Regions from separate parts of the Homo sapiens genome. Here region 1 is linked to region 2. Evidence: fine-mapped expression QTL. A gene starts in region 2. The other region holds a variant in brackets. All regions are shown on one strand. Distances are from middle to middle.

Region 1 (2,903 bases), 150 kb before region 2:
CTGCGCTCCAGCCGGGGTGACAGAGCAAGACTCCATCTCAAAAAGAAGAGAAAAATAATTTCTGTCCAGCTCTCCCCACCCCTCCCTACTTGCTTCCTCCTGGTCCTTTTCAATTCTGGAATCCCTGGCTTCTTTGTCCCCAAGAGACACCTTTCCCCCAGTCTTCTATCATCTCTTTCTCCCCATTCCTCCCGGACTAGCTAATTCCTACTCATTGGTCAGATCCCAGCCTGAAAATCTCTTCTTGACCTTTCAGGCTAGATCTGATCCCACAGTAATACACTCTGTACTTCTCCATCAAGCATCTCGGTCGTCTTTGTGTATTTTCATGACTCTGACCAATGCCCAGGCAGTTAGCTCCATGAGGGTAGAGACCAAGTTTATAACAGGTGCCTACCTCAGGGTCTGGCCCAAGTGTGCTCAGTAAAGAGTTATTGAATGGATGAATGAATCAATGAAGGTAAGTAGGTGTTGGCATAGCCTCAGGACTCAAGGCCAGATATTCTTTCTGGAACTGCACAGAAGTTCTAGTTTATCGTCTGCAGTTGACATTGACAACCCTGGGTAACACCAACCACTGTGTACCCTACTGCTGCTCCCATGGCCAAGGTCCTGCCCGGGCCAGGCCAGCTTACTGCTCTCCAGGCTCAGCCTGGCGGTCTGAGCATCGCTGACCATCTTAGGGAGAGATGCTTCTGGGGACTGATGAGGGGGGAAGCCAGACTGGAATGCGTGGGAGGTGAGGAAAGGGAGATTGTGGATGCAGACAGCTTTTTCACAAGTTTGGCTTTGAAAGGGAGGAGAGAATTAGGAGGTAGCTGCAAGGAGATTTGGGGTTTTCAAAGCAGTTTTTTGTTTGTTTTTTTAATTTCAGGAGAGATTTAAATATGTCTAAATGTCAGTGGGCAGGTTCTAGTTAGGAGGGAGAGGTTGAGTAAATAGGAATGGGAAAGAATCCTGAGGCGAGGAGAAGAGGGGCCTCGAATGAGCACCTGGATGGTAGTTAGCAGGCTCCTTCTGCCTCAGGCTTGGCTGAGGCCCCAGACAGGCAGGGCAGCCCCTCCCAATCCCAGCATGGGATGCTAGACCACCTATGCAGGGCTGGGAGGGAAATGTCTGAGAACTGGTAGTTCTGAGTCACTGTATTGACCACCCACATCCAACTTATAAAGCGGTTGGACAGGCCGAGAGAGAGGAGCCAGAGACTAGGAAGCAGGTTTATTTTTTATTTTTTTAATTTTTTATTATTTTTATTATTATTTTATTTTTGAGACAGAGTTTTGCTCTTGTCACCCAGGCTGGAGTGCAGTGGCATGATCTCAGCTCACTGCAACATCTGCCTCTTGGATTCAAGCGATTCTTCTGCCTCAGCCTCCTGAGTAGCTGGGATTACAGGCATGTGCCACCACGCCTGGCTAATTTTGTATTTTTAGTAGAGACAGGGTTTCACCGTGTTGGTCAGGCTGGTCTCAAACTCCTGACCTCAGGTGATCCAGCCGCCTCAGCCTCCCAGAGTGCTGGCGTTACAGGTGTGAGCCACCTGCCCGGTGGAAGCAGATTTCTTTAGCAGAGGCTTGTACTGTGGAGCCCGCCCCCAGCCACACCCATGGGGGAGGGGTGAGTGCGTCCTGCTTTCCTCAGATCAACTGAGGGGGACACTGGAACCAGGGAGACACAGAGGTGTCCGAATCACACCTCGAAATCTACAGGGGCGTGTGTATGTATGTTGTCTGCCTGTCAGTCCACTGGGCTTTGGGGTTTTTTTAGTTATTATTATTTTTAATTAAAAAAAATTGAGATGGGTCATCTTGCTG[C/T]GTTGCCCAGGCCGGTCTAGAACTCCTGGGCTCAAGCGATCCTCCCACCTTGGCCTCCCAAAGTGCTGGGATAACAGGCGTGAGCCACCCGCCTGGTGTATGTACTCTTCCCTCAGCATTATGTTTTTGGGATTCACCTATGTTTCATGTATCAGTAGTTCATAATATTACACTATTAACTTTTCTTTTTTTTCTTTTTTGAGACGGAGTCTTGCCCTATTGCCCAGGCTGGAGTGCAGTGGCGTAATCACAGCTCACTGCAGCCTCCACCTCCTGGGTTCAAGCAGTTCTCCTGCCTCAGACTCCTGAGTAGCTGGGATTACAGGTGCCTGCCACCATGCTCAGCTTATTTTATATTACACTATTAACTTAAAGCTTATGATAAATATTGTTAAATTCCCCTCCAGAAAAATGTGATCAAGTTTTTTTAATTTTTTTTTTTTTTATTTTTTAAGAGATGAGGTCTTGCCATATTGCCGAGGCTGTTCTTGAACTCCCAGGCTCAAGCAATCCTCCTATCTCAGCCTCCTGAGTAGCTGGGACCACCTGTGCATACCACCACACCCGGCTAATTTTTGTATTTTTTGTGGAGATGGGGTTTCACCATGTTGCCTAGGCTGGTCTCAAACTTCTGAGCTCAAACAACCCTCCCGGCTTGGCCTCCAAAAGTGCTGGGATTACAGGCGTGCGCCACCATGCCCAGCCATGCTGGGCTTTGAAAAAGGGCTGCATCAAGAGACAGATGAAGGTCAGTCAAATGTGTGCATTCCAGATGTGGGTCACAAGCATGAGAGAGAGCGGCTGGCTGTTGGTCTAGATCAGTGGTTCTCACTGAGGGTGATTTTCCACCTGAGGGGATGTTTGGCAACGTCTGGAGACATTTTTGATTGTCACAACTAAGGGGTATTACTAGTGGGGGTCCTCTAGTGGGCAGAGGCCAGAGGTGAGGGGGGGATAGGAGGGCCTTGGAAGTTTGAGAGAGTGAAGAATTGAAGTAGTCATCCCATAAGTAGGGGAGCTAGGTGACACACAGTAGGTTGCCAAGTGTGGTGATGGCTACAGGCAAGATGTAAGAAAATGAAGGTTCCA
Region 2 (2,903 bases):
AAATCTTCAGCTTCTTTCTCTCTATATATATATTTTTTCTCAATGTGAACAGAAATGTAAGTACAGGAAATATTTCACTTTTTCCTTAACTTCACTGAAAGAAAACACCATCATGAGTATAAATGGCAACTGTCACCTAATCTCCCCTTGGGGGACTGTGACAGAGAGTGGACGGTGGCAAACTAGAGTTCTTACTCCATTTGAAAGGGAGCTCAGCTCAGCTCCCTTTCATCATCACCCAGCTCCAGCAGGTCGGTAGCTGTCATGTAGGAATTCAGAATTAGTGTTACCAGGTCTCCCAATTTTTAACATATATAAATAATAATAAATAAATAATACGGAAATTTGGATTTTGTGTGGAAGTCTTCCAATTTAAAAATTCTGGCAACAGATTCAATAATTTTTCCCAAACACTGCGCTGGCCAAAAAATAATGTGTCTGCAACTCAGCTGGTTTGCAACTCTGCTCTCAGCTCTCCTTCAAACTGTCTCCCCCGCCTCAGTCCCCCAGAATCTGCAGATCCTCCCCCATCCTCCCGATGGTCCTCCAAGGTCAGCATTCAGGATCCTCAAGGCCAGCCCCACTCCTGCTGACCCCCCTTCTCTGCAACCCTGCGCGGACACTCCGGTTGGCTCTCCATCCTCCACTGCCTCACTCAGCGGTTACCTAACCTCTCCAGGTGTTTGTCCCGGCTCGCGCCTTACTCATTCCTCCAGGTCCCTCTCCAGTCACCAGCGACGCTTGTCAGTTCTCACTAAATATCCCGGGCCGAACAAAGTAAACTGGACCCGATAAAGCACCTCCAAGGAGTAAAAGGAGCAGAGCCTCACACTCGACACGGAATCCCGTCGTGGTTCCAACAACCCGAGCCACCCCAGGGCCGGGCCCTGGATGGACTTGTGCACAGAGCTCCCCCCACGAGCGCGTGGGACCCTGGGGTGCCCGCGGCCTTCCACGCCGGCAGAACAGCAGGGCTCGATGGTGGGGGATGTTCGGAGCGACCAGAAGCCGCGCCGCGCCACCCGGCCGGCCTCCGAGCTGTTTGCGATTTCCTCTCGGGGCTCCTCGTCCTCCTCCCCCTCAGGCCGCCCTCGCACGGCCGCCCGCCTCCACGGGCTTCACCCCTGCCCATCTTCCCGCACACGGGGCCGGGCGACCCTCCCACCTCAGCCCGGGATCGCGAACGGCTAGCGGGTGTCGCCAGGCGGGGAAACGCCGAGGCCGCGGCCGCTCCGGTCCCCCTCCCAGCCGCCGGTTCCCGGGCGCGGCCCCCGCCCGGCCCCGCCATCGCCTTGGCCCCGCAACCTCTCACCCGCCGCGCGGGTCCCGCCCGCGGCCGTGGCCGCCCCCGCCCGCGCCGGCCCGGGCCCTCACCCGCGACAGGGTGAGGTCGGTCATGAGCTGCTCGAAGGCCCGCGTCTCCTCGGCCTGTCTCTGCGTGTGCAGCGCGATCTTCTCACTGAACTTCCGCGGGTTGGCGCTGCCCGAGCCCGGCGAGGCGGCCATGGCGCGGACTCTGCGCGGGCAGAAGCGGGAGACGGCGGCCGTGGGGCCTGTACCTCGGCCCACCCGTCCGTCCACAGGCCGCCGGGGCCGCCGCCCGAAGCCAGTCGTCCGGCGCGACCCGGCAGAGGAGCCGCCGCGGCCCCGGAGCCAGCGAGCGGCCGGGAGCGCGCCGAGGTCCGCCCCCGTGCGCCCGGCCCCGCCCCACCCTCGGCGGGGCCCGCCCGGCCTCCAGTCTGCCCCGGCCCCACGCTCGCGGGCTGAGGGCTGCTCCCCGCTTCCCGGTCTGGCTCGGGACCCGCCGCCGGCGGCCACCTGGAGGGACCCCCGTCAGCCCGACAAAGTGGCCCCGGCGTACGGGGAACGCTGGGGTGCCACTCCACGGAGACTCTCCGACCCAGGGATGGCCTCTGCGTCTACGCGACGTGGAGAACACAGCCTGTGCCCGCATCCCCCCTCCCCCAGCCAAATTACGAAGATTTTCTTCTCCAGGTGGAACCTGGGCGACCGGACCTCGAGCAGGTCACCTCGGGCCCCCGCAGGGGGTGCGCCCATTTTGCCTGGGGCCTAACGTCTGCCCGCCAGCCCTGCCGCTCCAGGCCCCCGGCCTCCAGCCGCTGGTTTCCTGACCTCTCACACCCACCCCTCCCCGCTCCAGTCAACCAGAGCTGTATCTCGGCTTTAAAAACTGCCTCCTATTCTGCACAAACTACAAACACCATCCAGCCCTGCTGCAGCCTTGGCTCCATAGCCCCGGCCCCCTTTCCAGGTTCTTTCCAAGTCTCCCTACGGCCTCTCCACTCCTGTGGCAGCTTCAGCAGGTGCCAGCCCCACCTTGGGAAACCAGCGCTCAGCCTCAGCGAATTTCCCCTTCTTTTGGGGGAGTGAATGGATGTCTTTCTCTGTCGCCCGGTCTGGAGTGTAGTGGTGCGATCTCGACTCACCGCGGCCTTGACCTCCCGGGCTCAAAAGATCCTCCCACCTCAGCCTCCCGACCAGCTGGGACCACAGGCGGGGGTCACCACGCCCGGCTAGTTTGTAAATGTTTTTGTAGCAATGGGGGGCGGGGGTGGGTCTCGCTATTTTGCCCAGGCTGGTCTCGAACGCCTGGGCTCAAGCGATCTGCCCACCTCAGCCTCCCAAAGTGCTGGGATAACAGGCGTGGGCCACAGTGCCCGGGGAGTTTCCTCTTTGGAGTCCAGAAGCTACTCTCAGCATAAATGTTGATGTGCACAAAGATGTCCCGGGGAGCCCTGAGCGTGTGTCAGTGTTCTGTAAAGAGGGAAATATTAGAGGCCTACGGAAGAGTACGGAAAATAATATTAATACTACCCACGCCCCCCACTATCAAGATTAAACAGACATCAATACATTTTGCTGCATGTACTTGGGATTTATTA

Alleles and levels. Positions count from the first base shown, and alleles are read on the strand shown. Sizes are in standard deviations (SD) of each study's normalised expression.
In carriers of allele C in region 1, the expression in CD4 T cells of the gene that starts at base 1,655 in region 2 tends to be higher than with T alone (small effect, 0.40 SD a copy in BLUEPRINT).

The links.
Region 1: its variant is fine-mapped to the expression of CRTC3 in CD4 T cells (BLUEPRINT, PIP 0.95).

Annotation. Positions count from the first base shown.
Region 1 is chr15:90,682,267-90,685,169 of GRCh38, reverse strand. The region is part of intron 2 of CRTC3-AS1 (CRTC3 antisense RNA 1); the gene reads left to right. Among named protein-coding and RNA genes, the nearest start is that of LINC01585, 23 kb to the right of the region's middle. RefSeq lists an enhancer at 1,613-2,113. The variant C/T (reference allele first, on the strand shown) is at 1,815.
Region 2 is chr15:90,528,675-90,531,577 of GRCh38, reverse strand. It overlaps CRTC3 (CREB regulated transcription coactivator 3), which reads right to left and starts at 1,655. Exons shown (of 15, transcript NM_022769.5): 1 at 1,375-1,655. The coding sequence starts at 1,506. RefSeq lists an enhancer at 552-711 and silencers at 1,102-1,281, 1,302-2,051, 2,152-2,201.